Linked DNA regions of Homo sapiens. The protein of the gene in region 1 interacts with the protein of each later gene in a biochemical or structural test. Each region holds a gene or a part of one and is shown in the gene's direction. Other genes may lie near its edges.

The links.
Region 2: the proteins of PDLIM4 (region 1) and SLCO1C1 interact in a test that uses a peptide from one of them, tested with the Homo sapiens proteins (one large-scale study listed by IntAct).
Region 3: the proteins of PDLIM4 (region 1) and PDZRN4 interact in a test that uses a peptide from one of them, tested with the Homo sapiens proteins (one large-scale study listed by IntAct).
Region 4: the proteins of PDLIM4 (region 1) and SLC15A5 interact in a test that uses a peptide from one of them, tested with the Homo sapiens proteins (one large-scale study listed by IntAct).
Region 5: the proteins of PDLIM4 (region 1) and DLG5 interact in a test that uses a peptide from one of them, tested with the Homo sapiens proteins (one large-scale study listed by IntAct).
Region 6: the proteins of PDLIM4 (region 1) and PARD3B interact in a test that uses a peptide from one of them, tested with the Homo sapiens proteins (one large-scale study listed by IntAct).
Region 7: the proteins of PDLIM4 (region 1) and MAP2K2 interact in a test that uses a peptide from one of them, tested with the Homo sapiens proteins (one large-scale study listed by IntAct).

Annotation. Positions count from the first base shown.
Region 1 is NC_000005.10:132,267,696-132,270,824, forward strand, and holds part of PDLIM4 (PDZ and LIM domain protein 4), read left to right. Parts: intron 1-3,129.
Region 2 is NC_000012.12:20,694,094-20,698,131, forward strand, and holds the start of SLCO1C1 (solute carrier organic anion transporter family member 1C1), read left to right. Parts: upstream 1-1,238; 5' UTR 1,239-1,714; intron 1,715-4,038. UniProt on the Homo sapiens protein: Mediates the Na(+)-independent high affinity transport of organic anions such as the thyroid hormones L-thyroxine (T4), L-thyroxine sulfate (T4S), and 3,3',5'-triiodo-L-thyronine (reverse T3, rT3) at the plasma membrane.
Region 3 is NC_000012.12:41,509,820-41,513,319, forward strand, and holds part of PDZRN4 (PDZ domain-containing RING finger protein 4), read left to right. Parts: coding exon 1-94; intron 95-3,500.
Region 4 is NC_000012.12:16,239,686-16,243,185, reverse strand, and holds part of SLC15A5 (solute carrier family 15 member 5), read left to right. Parts: intron 1-3,318; coding exon 3,319-3,500. UniProt on the Homo sapiens protein: Proton oligopeptide cotransporter.
Region 5 is NC_000010.11:77,808,256-77,811,755, reverse strand, and holds part of DLG5 (disks large homolog 5), read left to right. Parts: intron 1-135; coding exon of another isoform or gene 136-172; exon of another isoform or gene 173-287; intron 288-521; coding exon 522-662; intron 663-2,025; coding exon 2,026-2,209; intron 2,210-3,500. UniProt on the Homo sapiens protein: Acts as a regulator of the Hippo signaling pathway.
Region 6 is NC_000002.12:205,612,475-205,615,974, forward strand, and holds part of PARD3B (partitioning defective 3 homolog B), read left to right. Parts: intron 1-2,981; coding exon 2,982-3,339; 3' UTR 3,340-3,500. UniProt on the Homo sapiens protein: Putative adapter protein involved in asymmetrical cell division and cell polarization processes. May play a role in the formation of epithelial tight junctions.
Region 7 is NC_000019.10:4,096,623-4,100,122, reverse strand, and holds part of MAP2K2 (dual specificity mitogen-activated protein kinase kinase 2), read left to right. Parts: intron 1-708; coding exon 709-922; intron 923-2,779; coding exon 2,780-2,844; intron 2,845-3,500. UniProt on the Homo sapiens protein: Catalyzes the concomitant phosphorylation of a threonine and a tyrosine residue in a Thr-Glu-Tyr sequence located in MAP kinases. Activates the ERK1 and ERK2 MAP kinases.

The DNA of each region.
Region 1 (3,129 bases):
AAGGTCCAGGGGAAGGGAGGACAAGATGGAAGGAGTGAGAGGACAGAGGTGAGAGATGAGGTGGTGGAGCAGGGCCACAGAAAGGCTCTTGGGCTTCTCTATCCTGGACCTCAGCTGTTCTTACAGGGATTCATGGCCACATCTGTGTCTCAGAAACTTGCTCTGATGGCCCCATGGACCCCAGACCTTAGGGGTAGGGGTACATGTTGCCATAGACAAATGAGCCAGGTTTGCCACAGGCCAGGCAGAGGGGAGCAGCAGGGTGTGGGCCTCAAGCTCATGCATGAGGCCCAGCCTCCCTCAGAGGTAGCAGTGCCAGGATGACGTGGTGGGGAGGGGGTTCAGTCTTCCAGGAGAGGCTCAGGGCCGGTGGGCCTGGGAGGCTGGCGACTGTAGAGCAGCTCCCCCTGCCCCCACACTTGTTCTCATTGACTCCCTTGAAGACCAGGCTGCCAGTGGCTCAGACTGGAGAAGGAGGGAGTTTCCACAAGCACCAGGGCAGCCCCTCAGCTGCTGCCCCACTTTTGTACTTAAAAGGTCATGGGCTCCATGGGTGGTGACAAAAACACCCCCACCCCACCCCTGCAGGGCTGAGTCCTTGCTAACACAGACACAGGGCCCATTGTCCCCATGCTGCTCCCACCCTCTGCCTGAGTGGGGGTGTTGGGGAGGGGGTGGAGCTAGCTGGAGCCATCGAGGAGGAGGAAACCACAGTTGGCCCTAGGACCAGCACAAGGTGCCCTGGCACACATCCCCGAGTGGGATGGGACAGGGCCAGCTGGAACTTCAGGCCCACCTTCCCTGTGGGGCGATAGGAGAACCTCCTTCTCTCAGGCCTCTTGTGGGAACACAGGAGGCACTTGGCCTAGCCCAGGGTGGAGGAAGGATAGTAACTTATTACTATCCTTCTGGGTTAGTAGGGTTTTCTGGAAGGAGTGGCAATTATGCTCAGAACCAGGTGATGGGGAGAAGCAAGTCAGGTGGAGCAGGCAGTCCTTGCACACTCAGCCTGTCCTCCCCAGACCAGCAGAGAGCTAGAACTGAGCCTCTAGGAGATGGCACCTGCTCATCTGGACTCAGCGCCTGCCTCCATCCAAGTTGAGTGTCCCAAAGCAGGTAGTTACCCCCATCCTGCTGAAAAATCCACTGAGGCTTCAACAACCAAGTGGGCAGCAGGCTGGTTCTCAGAGCAGAGGAGCATATGGTACGAGGTGTACCACCCACAGAGGGGGAAAATACAGGACTGGGGGCCCAGGAATTCCCCTGACAGCCATTCATCCAACAAGTATGTGCTTTATGCCAGGCACTATGCAATTGTCTTATTTCATCTCCACAAGGAACCTGATGTGGAAAGCATCACATTCCCCAGCTCATAGATAAAGAAACAGGTTCAGAGAGGTGAAGAGACTTGCCCAGTTAGGGGATAACCCTGGGACTCAAACTAAAACTGAGGTAGCCATGTGTGTCCTAGCCACAGAGTTCAGGCCTAGAGAGGCAGCTGCATGGGTGACCGTGGGAGGGGCAGTGGCTCTGATGGCCCTGCAGTGGACCCCTGCACCCTGCTGGGTAGGGGTGAGTGAGGGCCTCCTTCCTCCCAGTCCCAGTCCCTCCAACTCCTCCCTCCCACCAAAGCCTCTGCCCGGAGGCTGAGCCCCACCCCCACTGGCCACAGCCCATCTGGTCCCCATTAGAGGTCAGCCCTGCCTGCATGCTTGCCCGACAGACACACGTGTGAGAGCGCTCACGTTTCTCAGGGGCTTTTGTTGGGCCTGATGTGGATAGGGGTTTTCCTGTTGCTGCTGCATTGATGGGGGCCACCTGGGCAGCAAGACCCTCCTGTTTGTCTGTTGGGGTGGGGGAAATGGAGGGGGGCCCACCCAACTGCTGGTCTGCCTGTTCCCCAGGTTCCCACCCTACAAAAAGCAGGGGGTACTCAGGGCAGAACCCCACAGGCTCAACTATGCCTCAGAGCTTCCTAAGTCCAAACCAGGGTTCTTCCCACTACGATAGGCATCCTTTCCTGTCCACACTGGGCTCTCTGACCACACTGTAGAGCAGAGGAGGTTTACACGTCACTCCCAGGCTGAGGCTAAGACCTACCCCATGGCCTGGCCTCAGACATCATCCTAAAATCAGGCTGCTCTGGCTACTAGCCCAGTCTCAGCTATGGAGGCCACTATGGCCATTCCCAGGGTGACCAGTGCTGGCTCCAAGTCTCTGTAACCATGCGCATGTAGTTAGTTGTATGTAGGGAGATTGGTAGGTGCATATGTGTTGTCCTTATGTGTGTGTGTGTGTCTTTAAAGCATAATTGTGAGAGTGTGCATGCCCCTGTTTACATTGCTGTGGGGTGCTTGTGTGCACTTGCAAGCTGGGAACTGCACAGCTCTGGACTCTGCAGGGACAAAGATCCCCAGTCCCCACTCAGACCCCCACACACAGAGATACTGCCCTCTCCTCATGGCTGAGGGGGCAGGTTCAGGACACTCCCACCCAAAATGTTTCAGCCATGGGCACCAGGCTGGCTGTGGGGTAGTGGGGCAGAGAGCCTTGAGCCCTAGCCTGGTCTCTGCCCCTCATCTGCTGTGCCTGCAGAAGGCTACTCATTGTGGCCTGGAAAGCAGGAAATGGGGGACAGGTGTAGGCCCAGAAGGGGCTGACCTCACAATGGCACTCTTGAGCCTCAGCCTGCCCAAAGGGCCTTGGACACATGACAGTCAAGGACCCTTTCTGACTGTAGGACAGGAGTTACGTTTTTTGAGTTCCCAGCCATGGGCCTACCCAGTACCCACCACAGTTCAGGAAGGTGAGAAGGCTTGGCACCAGGGCCACCTCTGCCAGGAGGCCACATACTCTGCTGTAGCCACACAGACCTTAGGCTTCTTGGGATAGGCCTGCCCCAGTACTGTCCCTTCCTGAGTGGTGGTGGGCAGAACCACTGCAGGGCTCACAAGCCCAGGCTGAGTCTCAGCTGCCCAGGTTTTTGTGTCTGACTTTCCAAGGACGTTTCTCATTTCTGCAGGGGCATAACCAGTCCCCAGGCCCAGCCCTTCCCCAGAAATCCCTTCCCTGGCTGAGCACCACAGGCCAGAGATGCCGAAGCAGAGGAAGCCAACTGACATCCACCAC
Region 2 (4,038 bases), on another chromosome or scaffold:
ATGAAAGGCTGAAGTAGGCTACAATCCAATGCAAGGTTGCACATAAGAAGCTCTGAATAAGTGTAAACATTATGTGCATTCAAAACAGTAACATTAACTGTGGACTCTGGAAATAAGAAAAGGAATCGTGTTGGAGAGTGAGACTGAGCCAGTTGGGAATAGACAAAATTACATTCTCAAGGGAGAATTTCATTTCTTGGTGAGGAAAATTATGCCCTTTGGGCTGGTAAATACTGTCTCCTCTTGAATAAAACAGTGGTCTGGCCACCTGTTAGACACTGAGAAGTCTAGACTAACACTCAATGTATTCGGATGTTTGCTCACTATTTCCGATGGAAAAGTCTGGTTTGATTGTTAAAGTAAAATATTTGGCCTTTCAGAGTGTGAAAACACCATTGCTTCATTGCAAGGTTTAATATAAACCCATTTTTCTTGCATTTTCTTTTCTTTCTTTTGTAGTAAAATGTGCTTGAATAATATTAACTATTCTGACCATTATGTGAACTAAATATATATATATATAAAATGATGATACCTTCCGCTCATTTGCAATGTGCTTTTGAATACATTATATAATTTAATCCTTAAAACAGCCCTATAAATCTGTTTTTTTTTTTTTTAAACAAAAAAATTCTGCTTTACAAAGGAAGAAGTTGAGACTCAGTAAAATTAAGTGACCATCCCAGAGTCTCAGCCACTTAAGAGTAGGGTGAATCTTGGATAATTCTGGTAGCAAATTTATTTATTGGTAGAAAATAAATGCAAACTACTACTGCTTAAGATCCTCTAAAGTTTTTCTCTTGGAAAAAGAATGTATTAGAATTGTGGACTTTCTCAGTGCAAGGATTTATTTATCCTTGGAATTAGGCAGAATAAACAATTGAATGCCAAAAATTCAACGTGTTTCTTTTCTGTTTTCAAAACTCATAGAAATTGTAAATATGAGCAACTGATCATGTCTCTGAGAATTAACTCTTTTTGTACAGAGCGCTGCAGAGCTTTGATTGTGACCTGATACTTGGTCCTTAAAGATTCTAGAACACCAATGGAAAAGAAAACCATGTAGCAAATTAGCCCAAGAACCGTTAAAGACAAAACAAAACAAACCAAAACCAAAACACACAAACAAAGAAAACACAAGGATCCCAGTGATGTCCCTAAGGAATAGTTGGCTTAAAAACTTTCTGGAAGGAGGAGGGGTCTCTGTTATAAACTTCCGCCCTCCTCTGGCTTCTGTTCCTTACCCTCTGCCCCCTGCGGAGTTGTGTTTTCTGGGAATCAGCAAGTAAGATCACAAGTGGTCTTTTCTTTTATTCACTCTCTCCCATAAAGAAAGCTTTATCACGTGTGGCCTTAAACTTGCAGCAAATTGCAAAGAAATGGCTCAAAAGCTTCAGCTCTTTCTGTGCCCTGGGAGCTGAGATGCACGTCAGTGGCCTTGCCAGCGTGGCCAATTCTCTGCTGACTGCCAGAAAAAAGAGGCCAGGAAGAAAGAGGAAAGAGAAGAGATCGCTCAGGGGTGAGACCATGCCCTTCATCTTTTCTTTTCCCTAATCTCCTCTGCTTGTGTCCACCCACACTCTCCCCACCTGGCAAAATTGTTCAAAATTGCTGTGGAGTTTACCTCAGTTTCCTCTTTCAGTCTGTGGTGTGTGGTCCATCCTCTTGCTGAGCACATTGAAAGGAACTGGCTATCTTTGATCTCTTCCTCCAGGTAAGACTTGGTTCTCTCATTTTATATTTTGTGACTAATACATCAGATTCTTATGGGAGATTAACCCTTAATTTCTGTGCGATTTATGTTTTATCCATAAAAATATCAGTGAAAGGTGATGATCCCCTCATTAGTTTGATGGAAATAAGAGAGAAGATTGGTTAAAGAAATCAGATAAACTCAAATTTGAGTTCAAATTTTGAGTCTCATGCTTATAAATTGTTTAGCTTTTGACAAGTCACTTAATTGCTTTGGGCCATCTAATTTAAAAAATGGAATTCTAATATTACGTTTGTTGGGTTGTTTTAAGGATTAGAAAAAGTACGTACATTACTCAACACAAAAATAGTACTTATTAAATCTGAATCTGACACAGATAATTTGTATTAGGTGAGAAATTAGTTTCTAAACAACACACACTCCTCTGCAGCAAGTGCCGTGAGGCTATTTTTTAGTTTGTCTGAAGGGAGGCATCCTGGTGTCCAGAAGTCAAGCCAGGACAGAGGTTTTCCTCACAGGAGATGGCCAAGAGAAGAGAGGGAGGAGCGTGGTTGCCTTTAGGACTTTCTCTGTGGCAGTCCTTGGGGACTGATTGCTGGACAGAGTCCGAGTCAGTTGCAGAGCAGAGGGGTTGAGTACATCTGCGGGATCTAACTACAACCTTCCTAAGCCACTTGCTCTCTCCATTTAAAATCTGGAGGGCTGATTTTGAAACTAATGAGGACTGATTATTCAATGTTTTTGAACCAAAGGAAGAGAAACTGCTTGGCTTGTTTTTCTTTGGCCTCCAGAATAAGTTATGCTCCAAACCCAGGGTATTGGATGAAAACTGTCGTATGTCTTTTCCTGGAAGAATCTATTCAAGTGGCCAGAGATCAATTAAGGATTTGCCAAATGCAAATAATTCTGAATAACTGTGTACTCTTGCTCTACTTCTGCAGTTGCAAATGAAGAGAGAGAGCCTGCAGGCCCCAAGGATCTTTCCGTTCATGTCATTGAGCTTCCTTCCCTCTCTTTTTACAGGGGATGAACTGTAGCCTCCTTGGAACATACTACACTTGCAATAATTTGCGCATTAACCATCAAGACACTTCAGTAAAGCTATGCAGTGCCAATAGTTTAAGCTGGATCCTATTTTGCCCTAACACAAAGTGAACTGAGATGACTATATTTATATTTCATTATACTTTTGAATTTTAGTTACAGTGATTTTTGTGTCAACACCTCCATATATTAGATAACTTAAAATGTGCTATAGTATCTCAAGTTTTTCAGTAGTGTTTTTAACATAATTATTTTTTCTCTTTGACATTAGCATTCTAGATGTAACACTTTGGATCTTTTAAAGATAAATTTAGGATAAATGATAGCAGATTTTATTATTAAACAATTTATTTGTATTTTCTGGTCACTGACTTTAATATTATGACTGATGAGAAATAATATGATATCTGAATCCCCAAAAACAGAAGGCCAATTTGAATTATATAATTTAATCCTTTGAAGAATATTGCAATTTAAGCCAGAAATTTAATAATTATCCGTTTCTTATTTTAAAACCTTTCTGGTTTGTATATCTCTTGCTTGGCAATATTTTTACTCATAGTTTTGTAGTAAAGATACCTATTTAACATTGTATAACTCTGCATTTCCCAAACCCTGTTTTCCTTGTCCTGGCAAAATACTGTTCTAGAAAAGTAGTCCTAGTGACTCAGTAGATATAGGAAGTTGGCTGTTGGTATCAGATACTGTTAAGGAAGAATCTCTATATTCTTCATTTCTTAAACTTTGTTTTTTAAATCAGTAATAGATGTCGAATTTTATCAACTGATGTTTTTCATGTAATGAAATTCTATTTTTTATTTTGAATTATTCATGTGGTAATTTAGGTGAATAAATTTCCTGTAATTAACCAATTGTTGCATCTTTTAGAATAATTCTAATCATAGAGCAAGAGTTAATTTGGATTTGCTAGCATTTACTTAGAATTTTTATAATCTATGGGCTTGATCTGAAGTTTTCCTTTCTGTGCTATCTTTGTGCTGTTTTGTTACCAAGATAATGTTATTTTTGTCAAACTAATGGAGACAATGATTATCTGTTTCCATTATCGGCTATCTTTCCTCAAAGAATATCCCTTGATAAAGCACTTCTGGTGCATCATCTATCCTTAGTATCTTTGTTTAGGGAATAGTTTCAGAGTATTTTTGATAATGTCTTTCTTGGCTATTTTCTCTTCTGGTTTTTATCAATATAGGTAATGAATATTTGCTAGAAACTTATCCATTAAGTCAAGATATTAAACTTACTTCAACATTCGATGC
Region 3 (3,500 bases), on another chromosome or scaffold:
TCTACATCCAATGGAGCATGAATTTTATGAGGACAATGAGTATATTTCCAGCTTGCCTGCTGATGCAGACAGAACAGAAGACTTTGAATATGAGGTAAGGTCATTTTCATACCACTTCACATTTCTTCATGAAGTTACGGTTGAGGGGTTTTGTATAACAAAGAAATTAATTTATTACAGTGAGAAATGTCTTGTCTATTACATATCCAGTGTAAGATCTTTCAAATACTATTTGCTTTAGCTATGTGGCTCTCGTGTTTTAAGTATATTGGAAAATATTTTTATAGTATAAGCTTAAATATAATTTGCTCTCATTTTGTTGCTTTTTAATAAATAATATTGCAACAGCTACATTTTTAAAATCTGTTCTATAATATATGTGGATTTCCAAGTGGAGTTTGAAAAATATATTTAAAACAAAGATTGTGTTTACTATTTTCATTTGTTGTATAATATTCTAATTTTCATTGATAAACTAAATTTTATTATATTGTATTCTTTGGAAATGCAATACTCTCTTTGTGCCTCTGGTCTGTACTCTAAAGAGCCATTTCACAGACTTCCTAGAAATAGAGATGGCCTCATGCCCTTTGTTGTTAAACTATATTTATTCTTCACATGGTTTAATGTCAGAATATCTGTACTGTGATATATAACAATTCGAAAAGTCCATCCATTGATTATTTAAAAGCTCTCACAAAAGTTAAAGAATGTATCCTAATATTTCCTCTGCTTCTGCAGCCTGAATATCTTTGAAAGGTTTCAGACTACTCTGACATTTAAAAATAAAATAGATTGAGGAAGTAAAGAAGCTTTGGTAAACAGGCAGAGAACCCATGGTCACCTGCCCTTTTAATGCTTCAGGTGATGTCATACAAGTTCAGCAAAGTGTTCTCTTCCACTTTACAACCAGGAAATCCTGAAATCTCTTCCCTTAGGAGGATCTGAAATCAAATAAGGAAGCTCATCTAAAGCAAATGGACGTTTGTTTGAAATCTTCTCCCCACAAAAGTCATTCCTGGGGATTACAGAAATCATTATTTCTTTGCAGCCAAAATTTAGAAGGATGTGAAATGACAACTGGTAACTGAGTAGATGGTTTTTGTCATTCTTGTGTTGTTCATGTTAAATTTTTACCTCCTCTTTATTAAGTTGATTGAAAAGTTTTATTTTCTAAATCTACTCAAGCACTGACATGCATTACAATATCCATTGCTTTGTCTATTCATGTAAAATAAATTATAAAATTGAATGACTTATCCAAATAATTCAAGATTCTTATGTTTTCCTTTTGGTTAATGAATACTTTCAGTTTGGGGACTGGAATTATGTAGATCACTTCAACTTTTTATTTGGATGCCTTAAAGCTTTATTAAAATAAGTCAGTGTGCTCGGGGAGGGCATAGGGGAAGATTGTTTAGGCTAAGCAAGTTAACAGTAAAAGCCCTTTAAATGAATCAGCATGTCATTGAAATATTACAATACAGACAGATTTCCTTACATTTCTATGGAGCTTACTGTAACTGAACCACAACCTCTTTTTTGACCAATATTAATCCCCAGCAGAAGCCAGCATCAGGATGATGTCAGTGGTGAATTCTCAGACAAGCTCTCTGTAGCCTGTAATCTCAACTAATCACAGCATCATAGTCATTAATTTGCTGTCAGCTGTGATTCCGTTGCCAAAGGCTCCTTTCTGAGTGATTGAAATAAAGAATGTTCCTGTGAAATTCAAATAAGGAAGGAGTTGCTATGACAGTTTTCAATCATTAGAAAGGATGCATTTGAGAACAACATGCATGGTTAAAGGTGGGAGTGGAGGCATGGGAGAATACCTCCAGAGAAATTTACCAGATTCAAGAGAGAATAATGGTTCTGCCCAGTACTCCTCAGTCTGTTATCATTATGTGACACACACATAGAGTGGCACATGCCATCCCTTGTGGCTGCATCAAACTGCAAAATCTAGTCAGTCCACTGCCATCATTGGAGCCTGTGGTGGACACCATTAGGCTCATTCAGTGAAGAGATTTAGAAATGCTAATTCTGTCTATGTGTTGCACTTTTACTGTTACACCTAGAAGCAGACTGATCTGGTGTTTCTGTGACCAGCTGAGATGACCCTAGCTCCTCTAGGAGCTTCCTTATAACCCTATAGCTCTAGGAGCGGGATGGATGAGCACCTTAAGGAAGTACCAGTTTTGTGCCACTGAGAGAATATCACAGGAAAGTGAGGTTTAATGGCCAAGAAGACTTCAGCTCAGAAAGAGATATGCATTCCTCTTCAACCTAAACATGAGCACAACCAGGCAATCAAGGAAGTAGAAAGAAGACTCCTTTTTCATCTGCTTTCATTCATTTGTACCATAAATATTTAATGAGGACTTAAAATGTACCAGGCAGTTATCTATGCATGGGATTAGGAAGCTCCTGCCCCAGTGGAAGGAGCTTCTAGGAGAGGGAGGTCAACAATAAACATAAAAGTAAAGACATATTCTTTTCAATGGTGAGAAGTACTAATGGAAAATAATAAGAGTGGTGTTGGACAGGATGTTGCTGTCTTATACAGAGTGGTAATGCAAGACTTCTCTCATAAGAGAACTAAAGAATATAAGAGATCTAGCCATGTGAAAGGAGATTTTCAGAAAGAAGGAAGGGCAGGGGCAAAGGACCTGAAGCAGAAGCATGCTGGGGTGTACAAGGAGTAGCAAAGAGACCAGTGAGAGAGTGGAAGGGGTGAATTCAGAGAAAGGAGGGTGTGTTTTGTGGAGCCTTTGGCTTTGACCATGATATAGGAAGTTGCTTTGACTCTGAGATGGGAAGTTGCTGGAACATAGGAAAGCCATAACAGGATTACTCCAGCTGCTGGTCTGAGACTGACAGGAAGGAAGCAAAGTCAGCTGAGAGGGAGTGGGGTATTGGACCTGGGCGGTGATAGCGGGTGGAGTATGTATGACATAATCTAGGACAGCATCCACCCCAGCCTGGAGGGCTGTGCCTCAGAGCTTCAATATAGTTTGTGCTATGGCAATTTTCTTCTGACATTTTAATGGCAAAATATTACAGGTTAGAGTGAAGCACACCTTTTGGCATCCACCAGAGCAAGAGCAATGCATCCACACTTTAAAAGAAATAGCTTCTAGTATATAGACTGCATTTCTGAACTTGCTAAAATACAAACTATGCGGCTATTTAGGTGCCTTTTTAAAGACCTACTTACTATTAACTCAGTGAACCAAAGCTGATCTGTGTATCTCGTGAGTACTTATATACAGACTTAGTGCATGGATTATTAACCCAATAGACCAAAACAGATCTGACTATCTTGTAAATACATATTTAGGGACTTTTAACACACATATTATTTCACTGATGGACTGTAACAGGTCCCTTCAGAGCCACGGCAGACAAGCAAATGCTTCTTTGGAGATATTATACTCAGTGTCCATGTTATGGTGACTCTGGTGTGTTAGGAACCTCTATGAAAATTTAATGACACC
Region 4 (3,500 bases), on another chromosome or scaffold:
TTTAAATTTTAGCGTCCATAAATGAAGTTTTATCAGAACATAGCCATGCTCTTTGTTTTGTCGTATCTATGTCTGCTTATGCACAAAAATAGCAGAGTTGAGTAATTGCCACGGAACCCATATGTGGACATATTTACTATCTGGCCCTTTACAGAAAATTTCTTGACCTCTAGACTAAATAATGCATGAAAGCTAGTCTGATTTAGAAGATTCAAACTCCCTCTTGACTCTATAATAGCAGTAGGCACAAAAACAGAATACAGCAGAAATATTACCCATATATGTAAGCATTAATATAATAAAACATCTTAGATTGGAGGAACCGATAAACAGTACAAAATTACTACATGGCCCATAGCTAACCTCAAAAGCTTATGTGCAAGTAGCACAGAATACCAGTTCCTTACCTTCATAATGCAATGACACCTGACATTTCTTTCCACTAAGTTGGACCCTTCTTTGCACACTGTCATATATTTTTTAATTGAACATAAATTACAATAAATTTTGATAAACTAATTTTTAAGCATATCACCAAATCTAGATGTGCAACTTATTGCAAAGCACAGAAACTAATAGTTACTGATCACCTATTAAGTGCCATAGCTTCTAAAAGATGGCTTCACAGTACGTAATTTAATCCCCACAGCAAGGCTACATGGCTATTACTCTCCTAAATCTGAGGCTCAGAAACTAAGTTGCAACTTGTTCCCAGTCACCTTGCTAATGTGTGGCAGAGCAACATCCCACCTCAGGATTAGTGTCAAGCGCCATGCTTTATTATCCTCAATATCACTCTTGCATTGGGTTAAAAGTCCCTGATACAAACTACATAGATTCCAAAATTATATACAGTAATGTTATGCTAGAAACTTCAAAGAAAATGCTTAGATCATACTTCACCAGGGAGGCAGAGGAATTTCCAATAGGATAGGCTGGGTTTAGTTTTTTGCCCCCAGATGAAATAATCACCAGTACAAAGGCAATCAAAGTACCAAGAATAAAACATCATAGAATTTCATACATATTTTAAATTTAGTAGCCATTATTGACCTTCAGTTGCAAGACATACATCTAAAATATGTTGATATTACGGCTGATGAGGTTGCCATTTGACATTACTGGCCAGTCAAAGGTGAGAATGAATCTCTATTGACAGCAATTATTTCTGAATACTCAAAGGCTTGGATGAAATAAAAGTATTTAAAATTTTACAGGGCGATGATTTCAGAACTTCAGGCAGAGGCAGAAATGATTTCAAGCTTTCAAGACACTGCAGCCTTTTCTAAGATTAGGCAATATATTAATATTGCTTCACTAAAGATTAATAGTACATTTGCCACATTATTAAGTTAACATATTTCTGTGTCTGTGATTCATGCCGATAATAACTTTATTCCTATTAACAATAATTCTCATTTGAAATCAGTAACAGAAACTTCCAAGTTGTGCTGGGAGCCTTTCAGTCTTAGAGTTGTTCCGCTGCCAGCACTTTTTGTTAAAACACATCATTCATTTTCCTCCGATGGGGGATCCATGCTTAATAATTTTATTGAAGTAGGGCAGAACTAACTAATGTTCCTTTAACTCTTGCCATCTGTACTCAGCCAAAACAATCCTTGTTTACTATGCTAAGGGTCAAATTAAAGATTGGGAGATAAATGATCACCAGGACACGTTGTCTACAGAAAGAATCTCAGTGAAAATGTGGTCTTGTCCTGTGTTTGCGCAGTTAACATGGCAATAGGCTCATTTTACAATTAGTGGACTTGGTAACAGCTGTACTGACACCATAATACTGATTCTCCATATATACCCTCTTGAATTGTACAATTGAGTCTAGAGAAGGGGTTAGCAAATGTTTCAAATGAGAAGTTATCATCTGGATATTTGAGCGAGGCTGCTCTCCCAGGATGGTGGTGAAGCAGGGATCCTAATGCAGCTCTTGTACCATACGAGTTTGGAGGATCCATTCCTCAAGAAGACTTGGTTGACTTTCTGTCTATGACACTCAATAGCTTTGTGTACCACTGGGAATTAAAGAAATACTATGCGCTACTAAAGATCATGATGGGCCGGGCACGGTGGCTCACACCTGTAATCCCAGCACTTTGAGAGGCTGAGGCAGGCAGATCACGAGGTCAGGAGATCGAGACCATCCTGACTAACACGGTGAAACCTCATCTCTACTAAAAATACAGAAAAATTAGCCAGGCGTGGTGGCGGGCGCCTGTAGTCTCAGCTACTCGGAAGGCTGAGGCAGGAGAATGGCGTGAACCTGGGAGGTGGAGCTTGCCGTGAGCCGAGATCACACCACTGCACTCCAGCCTGGGTGACAGAGCGAGACTCTGTCTCAAAAAAAATAAAAATAAAAAAGATCATGATGAAGCTGATGAAGCTGTAACAAAGCTCATGTACTAGAAAAGTGAAGAGACACCTCTTTCATGTGACATCATCCCTTGGTTCTGATATCACACTCGGTTGCCAAGAGGATTGGAATACACTAAGAGGCTCCAAATCAGTGTTAGAGTTTTAGTTAGCATTGGGGTTATTTTTAAAATGAAGAAATTCTAACAATACATTGAGGATTTGGGGTGGAGCACAGGGTTTTTTTTTAAAAAAATTGTATCTTTCACTTTATCATGCAAACCTTTTTCATGTTGTTTCCTTTATGGAATTCTAGCATCACGTAATTAGTTTGAAGGGAGGGCAAAGACACAAGGTTTTTTTTTCCTCCCCCTGTTACTTAGTTCACATTGGAAACAAAGCCTCTCTAAATAGCCCCCTCAAAGACAGCCTACAGCAATTAACACGTGTCCACATTGGGCCCCTCTTCTTAGGAAAAAGTCGTTTCTATATTGCCACCAAACTAGATGCTTTTTAAAGAATCTATTCTAGCCTCATTTTTTTCATCAGGGTAAAAACAGACGTCTTTAGTATTTTTTACTGGTTTTATATTAGTGTTCATGAAGAAAAGTCATTTTGCTTATCTACAGAATTTAAGTTATTTGGCTTTTTATGTGTCATCTTAAGCACAAAATTGGGGCCATCATTACTTTTCATAGAAAAATTAAGAGAGACTAAATGATGATAGAGTATTTCATGAGTAATGAGTACTATTGTCAATAGACTAGACAGAGCTCCTACCACCACAGATGAAGACCCTTTATCAGCTCATAACTGGGAACTTGAAAAACTAGGCAACATCCAGCTCATCCATCACAGAGTACGTGCAAGAGGGTAGGCCTCTGGTGGACGATGCTTTCTTCAAAGTTAAACCCCTGTCTTAATGCATGGATGTTTCCCTCTCGAATACAGATTCCTTCAGGATATTATCTGCAAACTATGAATTCCAACCTGAATTTGGATGGATTTCTTCTGCCGATTGCAGTAATGAATGCCATCAGCAGCCTACCATTACTAATTCTGGCTCCTTTTCTGGAGTATTTCAGCACCTGCCTGTTTCCCTCTAAGAGAGTTGGATCATTTCTGTCAACATG
Region 5 (3,500 bases), on another chromosome or scaffold:
GAGAGGCTGTCTCCTCCTGAAATGGGGTGTGGAAACAGATGGCTGTGGTCCCCCTGACCAGCAGGGGCCCATGGTAGCCAGGAGTTGTGGCCCCGGGGGTGGATTCTCACTCAAAGTGTTTGGCTCCCTGTCCAGGAGCAGATGCTGTACACCTGTCTGTATCTGCCCCTGAGCTGTGGGTTGAAGGGCAGAAAAGAAGGGGAGGCATGCCCTGCAGTGCTGCGCCACAAGCTCAGCAGGAGAGATGGGATGCACAGGCAGAGGAAAAGAGACAGGATGCTCACAGCTTCCTGAGGTCAGATGCCTTTGGAGAGGGCCCCTGAGCTGAGGACAGGTGGAGGGGAGAGGACAGGTGGATGTCATGGGTCCAGGCTTCTAATGTGTCTGCTCTGCTCAGGGCACAGGGTGCAGGGCTATGTGACCTGGTCCCCATTTATAGCTCAGATCTAGTTGCCACAGGAGTGGGGGTGGCTCTGGGTGGCTTCGTACTGCTCCTTATCCCTCCTGTCCTCCGCCTCCAGCTCACACCTGGACCCTGCCGGTACCCACTCCACTCTCCAGGGCAGTGGCACCACCACCCCGGAGCATCCATCTGTCATCGACCCACTGATGGAGCAGGACGAGGGGCCTAGCACCCCCCCAGCCAAGCAGAGCAGCTCCAGGTCAGCAGACGTTGCTGTGAGCCTTCCCTGTGTCCGCTTCGGCTGGGTGGGGCTGAGCACATTCTCCAAGTGGCGTGGGCACTGGGCAGCTGGCCTCATGTGCTGCAGGCCGCACACCAGGTCTTCAGGAGTTGGGCCGGGAGCACGGCATTCCTTTTTTCCTTCCCTACTCTCTCTTTTCCTTTCTCTTTTTCTCCTGTTTTCTATTGACTTGTTTTTTCCCCTGCATCTTCTCTTTCTCTTCTCCTTTTCTTGTTCACTCGCTTTCTGAGTCTGTCTTTGGACACATTCCCACAGTCATCACCCGGCCAGGCCCTGGGCTCTGGCCACCCACAGCAGTGCTTCCCCCAATGAGGTGGCAGACCAGTGCCGGGCACGTGCAGCAGAGTCAGGGTGCTGGGAGGGCACTGCCGGCCGCCGCAGAGCAGGCAGGAAGATCACTGGAGTGTGGCAGGGGAGGTGGCAGCTGGATTAAAATGTTCAGGACAGGCAAGAGCCAAGAGTGGGCATAAAGAGAAGTCCAGGCCGAGGGAGCAGCAGAGTTCAGGAGGAGGAAGGAGCTCCATGGGAGCTGCACAGCGTCCAGCCTGGCCTGGGGCTGCAGGGAGGGCCATCCAGGCCATGGTGTGACATGATCACTCTGCCGTCCTGGAGGAGCTGTGTCTCCAGCACTGAGAGGCCTTCACCAAGCCCTGGGCAGCATCTCACAGAATGAGGCCAGCTCTGCATTCTCTATACCAGAGTCTGTCACATTGGAACTTACCTGCTGCAAGGTTTTCCTCCCGGGCTGGCATCTCCCCTGAAGCCCCCTGTATCTGTTTCCATCGCTGTCCCATCTCACTCCCTCCATGTGTTCAGCAGCTTACTTTCAGCTTCCCTTCCTTGATTGTAAGTGCCTTGATGGCAAGGGGCCCCTCTTCACAAGTTAGCAGTTGCTGGTCTATAGAAGCTTCTTCGTAGACATTTGCTGAATACATTGCTGTGCTCTGGACAGTGAGGCCAACTTTACCTTTCCTTAGGAAGTACTAAGTTAGGAAAATGAGTGTGATCCACATGGGAGGGAGGCCATCCTGATCTTTAAGGCATGAGATTGATAGCCGGGCCTGGGAGCAGGGGCACTGATTTACGGTTTTGACTGCCCCCGCTAACTGGCTTTGGACCTGGGGTCTTGCCTTCATCTCCAGTGCACCTTAGCATCCTGTCCCGAACGCCGAGCCAGTAGAACTAGAGGCCACCTCTCAGCTCCCTGTGGTTCTGAGACCCCAAGAAGCAGGCAGAAAGCGGTTAGGGCATTGGCCACTGCTTTGTCTTTTTGTGCCTCCTCTTTGTGCACAGTTGAGGAACTTTGTTTTTTTCCTGAAAGGATTGCGGGAGATGCCAACAAGAAGACCCTGGAGCCACGCGTTGTCTTCATCAAAAAGTCCCAGCTGGAGCTTGGGGTGCACTTGTGTGGTGGGAACCTGCATGGGGTGTTTGTGGCCGAGGTGGAGGATGACAGTCCTGCCAAGGGTCCTGACGGCCTCGTGCCAGGGGACCTCATCCTGGAGGTGAGTTCTGAGCTGCTGAGCAGGCCAGGCCTCCATCTACCTGCACAGTGGGCTTGCTGCCATCTCAGGTGGCACCAAAGACGGAGGAGTACAGCCTCTCATCTGGTGAGCCAGTCAGGGCTGACTTTTGTTGTTGTTGTTGAGGCAGAGTCTTGCTCTGTCGCCCAGGCTGGAGTGCACTGGCACAATCTCAGCTCACTGCAACCTTCACTTCCCAGGTTCAAGCGATTCTCCTGCCTCAGCCTTCCGAGTAGCTGGGACTACAGGCATGTGCCACGATACCCGGCTAATTTTTATATTTTCAGTAGAGACCAGTTTCACCATGTTGCCCAGGCTGGTCTCAAACTCCTGACCTCAAGTGATCTGCCCGCCTCGGCCTTCCAAACTGCTGTGATTATAGGCATGAGCTACCGTGTCCAGCCTCAGGATTGATTTTTTTTTTTTTTTGAGACAGAGTTTTGCCCTTGTTGCCCAGGCTGGAGTGCAGTGGTGCAATCTCAACTCACCACAACCTCCGCCTCCCAGGTTCAAGCGATTCTCCTGCCTCAGCCTCCTGAGTAGCTGAGATTACAGGCATGCGCCAACACGCCCAGCTAATTTATTTTTGTATTTTTTGTAGAGACGGGGTTTCATCATGTTGGCCAGGCTGGTCTCAAACTCCTGACCTCAGGTGATCCACCCGCCTCGGCCTCCCAAAGTACAGGGATTACAGGCGTGAGCCACTGTGCCTGGCCAGGGTTGATTTTTAATCCCTGTAAACCCAGAATCCTGCCAAGCCCTTCTGAGGAGGTCCCTGTGAAGCCAGGCAGGCCATTGAGGGAACCTGAGGGCAGAGCCTTGGCTCAGGCCCTGGGCATCAGGGGGTGCTCGCCCTCAGGTGATGTAGCTGCAGGACTCTGTTCTGATGAGAGAGGATGGTCTTTCTCTGTGGTCTCCTGCCTCATGGGGGAGATGGTTTGTGAGAATATAAAGGCACAAGTTGGGCTGGGTTTGGTGGCTCACACCTGTGAATTTTAGGAGGCCAAGGTGGGAGAATTAGTTGAGCCCAAGAGTTCAAGACCGGCCTGGGCAACATAGTGAGACCCTGTCTTTACAGAAAACAAAACAAAAAAATTAGCCAGGTGTGGTGGAGTGTGCCTGTTGTCCCAGCTATTCTGGAGGCTGAGGTGGGAGGATCACTTGAGCCTAAGAGGTATAGGCTACTGTGAGCTGTGATTGCACCACTGCACTCAGTCTGTGTGACAGAGGGAGACCCTGTTTCAGAAAATAAATAAATAAAAGCACAGGCAAC
Region 6 (3,500 bases), on another chromosome or scaffold:
ACACATAATAGTCAGAAGAACTTAGAAGTTGTTCTGACAAAAGTCTGTAGGAAATTCTGTTATGAACAAAATGTTGTTATAAACAACAGCTACACACCATCCCCCAAAATAAAGAAAAATTCTTCTAGCACTCTTTGAACCTTAAACAGTGTTTTAGTAGGCCAACTCATTGTTTTTCTTCTCTCTGAAAAATTAAAAATGCTAACTGTTATGATGAGTTCCACAGAAAAAGACAATTTCCATGACTTCATTTCTTGACAAAGAACAGCTACCTCTCTTGCTTTCTGCCACATACAAGCAAACTCCCAGACATAAAACCTCCCCTCAGAGGAAGCAATATGGGACCACAAAAGTATCTTGAGGTCTGCCCTATCTGCCCACGGGAAGCCTCCCCCTCACTGTGAGCTGTGAGCACTGGCTGCCTGGGAGGAGCAAGGTGTGGGAGAAGAGATAGCGACTGTCCCCCCATGTGCTCGCCGACTGTACTGTCACAACCTCTCAGGGTGGCTTCTGCCCTGTCACCACTTGATCTGGATTCTCTCTCCAAAAATTTAAAAAAACAAGGCGTGCCTGTCTTTTATAATGCTCTGTTTTAAGAGAGAGAAATCTCCAGGGAGAGAACAGGACCCTAAAAGTCCAAGGCCTGGAATTCTTCCTTTCTCTCTTTCCATTTTAAACAGGAAGCATTCATGCTAAGAGAGTCCGGAGGGAGGGCTGGTTGTATGTTCATTTGAAGGCAAATAATGTTTGTGTGTTGCAAATGTCAGTGATTTATCCTAAGGGCTTAAAATGAGTGCAGAAAAACCACATGTTTCACTTCATGCAGAGAAATATCTTCAGTGGATTTTGAGAGAAAGTACAGGTTAAGAAAAATTTTTTGAGTGTATCGGATATCTCCAACATGAACCAAAAGGAAATGAAAATGAGCATGGTGAGGTGGAGGAGAGAGACTTAAAGAATTCTTATGATAAAAGATATACCGAAGGCTGGAAGTTTTCTAAATCAAAAATGAAATTCTAAAGAAAGGGAAAGGTGAAATCCAGAGCCTTTATTTCCCATGGCTAGAGTGACAGATTATCCATTTGTGCTCCATTTGTCATGGGCGATTTAAAATACAGCAAAGCAAACTGCACTGAATAATAGCAGCTGATGCTATAATAACTTGTACACAAACAATTTAATTTTTTATCTGAAAACTCTAACTAAATTACCCCAAGCTCAAGGATCTTTCATTATTATACATAGCCAAATTAAGACAAAAAAGTAGAGAGAATTCTATTGTTCATCCTTATAGATTTGTTCACAAGCTGCTTTCTACATGCACCGAGCTGGGAGCTTGTCAAATCTTCATTGATTTGAGCAACTTACAGAGCTGTTTTAACATCCACCTCCACAGATTACAGGGTGATTCTGACCCTCATTGACAGTGCTTGATTAACCACAGACACTGTATTCTCACAGCCCTGTCATTTCTTTCAAGTGTCCTAGCAGTGTGTCTGACATTGGGGAGCTTTCCCTTAATTATTGTTGTTGTTTTTCTTTTTTAAAAATTATAAAAGGGGGAGTGGCAAAAAAATGGGAAGGATCTGGGGATGGTGGTGGTGGTGAATGTGTGCACAGAAGGTTTATGAGATTTTAAGAGCTGCAAACAGAACTCATCTGTTTAACCCCAGGCTAGATAAAATGCAGTCATCTGCACATTGTTTAGAGGCACACTGCTTCTGTTATGGCAAACGGATCAGAAGATGCTTGTTTTCTTTAGTGAGAGATCCAGACAGGGCCACTTTCTGTTAGTGTCTATTCTTACCCTGGATGTTTCTGTGTGCCTTACCCATTACAAGGTACAACTTACAGCTGGTTTGGCATTTCCCTATTCTGCTACTGGACTGGTGCTACTTCCTGGCTTTGTGGTAGAGTTGATTACTTTATATCAAAGCTTTAGGTGTGGGCTGGGTGCAGTGGCTCACGCCTGTAATCTCAGTACTTTGGGATGCCGAGCCAGGCAGATCACCTAAGGTCAGGAGATTGAGACCAGCCTGGCCAACATAATGAAACCCATCTCTACAAAAAAAAATACAAAACTTAGTCAGGTGTAGTGGTGGGCACCTGTAGTTCCATCTACTCGGTAGGCTGAGGTGGGAGAATCGCTTGAACCCAGGAGGCAGAGGTTGCAGTGAGCTGAGATCGCACCATTGCACTCCAGCCTGGGTGACAGAATGAGACTCCCTCTCAAAAAAAAAATTAAAAAAAAAAAAAGAGCTCTAGGTGCTCTGGCTTGGGACTTTTTCTAAGGACTGTAGAGCATTTAGGGAGGGGAGGGACATATGAATCCACACCAAGATGTAACAGCAGCCAACCAGAGTTAGACCAAGATGACAGCCCGTTTAAAAGAGCACCTCACAGATTTAGAAAAGCGAGTGCAGTCCATGGAAACTTTATGACTCCAAATAACCTGAACATTTCTATCACCATGCCTAGGACAGACTTCAGCCCAGCCTGTCCTGGATATGGTGGTAGAAAAGGGGAGGGAACTAATGACCCCATCCTTAAGAGAGGCAAACTCACTGCCTTGTTTAGGAAACTAGTTTGGTTACTATAATAAAGGCCAACAGAAAAGGGTATAAACCAGATTGAAGTGTATTTTCCTCTCATGCACCAATGTGAATGGAAGCAATCCTGATTGACATGGTGGCTCCATGGCAACGGGGACCCAGGCTCTCACCTTCTTGTTGCTCTGCCTCCCATAGCACGTGGTTTTCACCTTGTGGCCTAAGATGGTTTTTCTGCTGGCCAACAGGAAGGAGAGAAGGGAAGAAGTTCCCTTCTCTTCTTTTTAAGGGCACGTATCACTTCTGCTCCCATCCCATTGGCCAGACCTATGCGGTGGCCACACCAAACTGCACAGGAGGCTGAGGAACATGTTCTCCAGCCGGACGGCCAGCTTAGGAGCTGCTAACATGTGTCTCTTCTTCTCTTTCCAGGGGAGGACCCGCAGATCCTGTAGACTATCTGCCAGCAGCACCTCGGGGGCTCTACAAGGAAAGGGAGCTTCCCTATTATCCAGGGGCTCATCCTATGCACCCTCCCAAAGGGAGCTATCCCCGCCCCACAGAGCTCAGGGTGGCAGATCTCCGGTATCCTCAGCACTACCCACCCCCGCCAGCTCCCCAGCACAAAGGACCCTTTCGACAAGACGTTCCGCCTTCCCCTCCCCAGCACCAAAGAATGCCAGCCTATCAGGAAACAGGCAGACCAGGGCCCCGTGGGGGCAGCCCAGACCAGTACCCTTACCGAACCCAGGATTCCCGGCAGAAGAACCCCATGACTGCAGCCGTATAGCTGAGTGCCACCGAGGCCAGCCCGGTCCAGAAAGGAAGGTGTCTACTCTACCTTTGCCCTTTCTAAACCTGAAGACCTCCTTGGTGTTAGGAATTCTCCATGTTACTGATAAGCTTTTTCTCACTGACATTGTAACGCATGACTGCTAATCAGAGAGAAAA
Region 7 (3,500 bases), on another chromosome or scaffold:
AGGCGCTCGCCACCACGCCCGGCTAATTTTTTGTGTTTTTAGTAGAGACAGGGTTTCACCATGTCAGCCAGGATGGTCTCAATCTGACCTTGTGATCCGCCCGCCTCGGCCTCCCAAAGTGCTGGGATTACAGGCGTGAGCCACCGTGCCCGGCAGCCTTGGCTAACTTTTAAAAAAATGTTTTTAGTAGAGATGGGGTCTCGCCATATTGGCTAGCCTAGTCTTAACTCCTGGGCTTCCACCTCAACCTCCCAAAGTGCTGGGATTACAGGCATGGGCCACTGCACCCGGCCCTTAGTTAATTTCTGGACCAAGGAATTGGAATCTGGGGTCTTTCAGGAAACGACTGGGGATTCAGCAACCTGCCAAATTGAGCCTTGGAGCAGCCTCTGAGATGTTAGCTGTGGAGGAGGAGGCCCCTGCTTCCTGGGGCCCATCATCCATTCCCAAAAGTGCTGAGCATTGCAGGCTCTTCAAGAGCTGCGGTCAACACCAGCTCCAGGCCTCGGGCTGGAAGCCTCTTCAGCAAGTGCCGCAGGGAGGCCCTGGGTGGGTGAGCCGGGAGGTAGAATTGCGTAACAGCTCTCTATCCATTGCTGCGGTCATTAGCCATGGAGAGGGTGACGGGGGCTGTAACGGGGCAAGCCTCCCGGGTTCCAGCTGCCATCCTCGCCCCTCTGGGCTCTTTCCTCCCTGGCTCTGCTGCAGCCGGAGCGGTTGCAGGGCACACATTACTCGGTGCAGTCGGACATCTGGAGCATGGGCCTGTCCCTGGTGGAGCTGGCCGTCGGAAGGTACCCCATCCCCCCGCCCGACGCCAAAGAGCTGGAGGCCATCTTTGGCCGGCCCGTGGTCGACGGGGAAGAAGGAGAGCCTCACAGCATCTCGCCTCGGCCGAGGCCCCCCGGGCGCCCCGTCAGCGGTACGGCCTGAATCTGCAACTTCCGGTCTGGACGCGCAGTGCCCTGCGCGGGGCCTGCTGTGCCAGGGTCAGCAGCTGCCTCCCCTCTGCCCCTGGCGCACCACCTGTCCCCCTGGATGGTGCCGACTGTGGTCAGCAGTCCTCCCATGGTCCTGGGGTTTCCGGGGACAGAGCTGGAAGCAGTGAGCACCCCAAACCTGTTCTGTCCGGGGCAGCTGCACCTGTTGTTGCCAGCTGGAGGGATCTGGGAGCGCAGCTTTGCCACCAAGCCCCTGGGCAGTTGGATTTTCCAACATTTTATCCCGAAAGCATTCAAACGCACAGAAAAGTGGAAGGAATTGGCCGCCACAGAGCCTGCATTCTGCAGGTGACACGCTCCTGTGCTGCGGGCCAAGCCTTCCAGGGAGTCCTGAAGTGGAGATTGGACTTGGCATGGCCCTCAGTGGCCTGTTGGCTCCGGCCCCAACACACACAGGAGGGGACACAGCCCGGGAGGGGGCGGGAGGGCTCAGGCCCCAGGGACAGCTGGGCTCGCAGAGGACAATCCGGCACTTAGGGCGGGCACCTCGGGAGCGGGAGCTCCCTGACGCCAGTCAGAGAGGGCCGAGCGGACACTTCCACCGCCTGAGGGAAGAGCCGGGGGCGGACCCTGCTTGGTGCAGAATCACAGGAGGGTCCTGTGATTTTTTTTAAAGTCAGACATCAGGGAGAGTTGGTGGCGTCAGACCCCAAAGGACCCTGTAGCGGACTGTGGTTGGTTTTAAAACCATGTTTCCGAACTACAAAGCACACACCCCACAACTCATTTCAGGTGAGCAGTTCAGTGGTTTTCAGTCACAGTGCTGCGCCCCATCACCTCTAATTCCAGAACCTTCTCAGCTCCCCAAGAGGAAACCCTGTCCCCATCAGCTGTCACTCTCCATCCCCTTCCTGCCTCTGGACTGGCCTGTCCTGGGCATTTCACAGAAATGGGGTCACACACTTGTGTGGCCTTCTGTGTTTTGTGTGTGGCTTCTCTCCTGGAGCGCAGTGTCCTCAAGGGTCATCCACGCCATGGTGCGTGTCAGAGCCTGGGTCCTTTTGAAAGGCTGAGTAGTATTTTATGACACGAACAGGCCACGTTTTGTGGTCCTACCCGGATGGATTGGGGCTGTGAGAAGGAGATTTTCATAGCACTGGCAAGCCCACCTCCTCCTCTCCAGCCAGACTGCTGGGATGTCTTGATCTCATCCCAGGGAGAGGCCCCCAAGTCCTTATCCTCAGGCCTAGCCTCAGCCTCTCCCAGTCCCAACTCTCAGGTGGTATACCATCCCCAGCCCAGGGCCCCAGCCCACCTGCCCATTTCAGGACGGGCAGAAGGCGAAAGTCCAGCTGCCAAGCCCAGGCCTGGCCAGCTGGTTCTCAGACAGGGGTCAGCCACCCCTAGCCAGTCTCCCGTCCTGAGTGGCACTTGGGGCCTGCCCCCATCACCGCCAGCAGCTCCATGCAAGGTCACGCGGCTGTCCTTGCCTGCGGTCAGCACCGTCCCTCCCCCTGCCCTCCAGAGAGGAGGGGTGATGACTTTGGCACGTCCGGCAAGCCTCACCGAGCCAAATGTGTGACTTCTCAAAAAATGTTCTTGTTCCTTTTGCCTTTTTTTTAATTCACTAGAGGCTCAGGCAAGGAGTAGCTGTCCCAGGGAATGGAACCCAGAGTCAGGCAGGGGAGCTTTGTCCAGTGCCTCTGCACACCCGCCTCCAATTTAGGCTGGCATGTGGAGGAGGGCGCCTGGTGGTGATCAGCCCCCTGGGAGCCCAACCCCCAGCAGAAGTGAGGTGGCCATCGGCCCATCTCACCTCCATCTCTCTCCCTGTGCAGGTCACGGGATGGATAGCCGGCCTGCCATGGCCATCTTTGAACTCCTGGACTATATTGTGAACGAGGTTTGTGCTTGATGCCTTTTGGCTTTTCTTTTCCTTTTCTTTCTTCTTTCTTTTTTTTTTTTTTTTTTTTTTTAGGCAGAGTCTCTCTCTGACCAGAGCAAGAGTCACCAAGGCTGGAGTACAGTGGTGCCTTCTCGGCTCACTGAAACCTCCACTTTCCAAGCTCATGTGATTCTCGTGCCTCAGCCTCCCGAGTAGCTGGGATTACAGGTGCGCACCACCACACCCAGCTAATTTTTTTTTTTTTTTTTGAGACATTGTCTAGCTTTGTAGTGCAGTGGCTTGATCTCAGCTCACTGCAACCTCCGCCTCCCAGGTTCAAGCAATTCTTGAACCAATTCCACGTGTGTCGCGTCTCCCATCTTCTACTGTGCTGCACAAGCCCAGCTCCTTCCCAAGGGCATTGTTTTTTTATGAAGACGAACCCAGAATTCCCACCGCAGCCTCTCACCCTGAGTCCAGAGGGAGGTGTGTGCCAGCAGCCCTGGGCTCAGGCCGAGGAGCCAGCCTGCCCCTTGAGCAGTGGCCCAGTGTCTCTGCATCAGAGCGTCCTGGCGCCCGTGGGCGTGGACTCATAAATCACCCCGCTTCCACGGAGAAAGGTACAGGAATGGCCCTTGCCTCTTGGAAGGAGGCCCAGAGAGCCTAGAAGGACC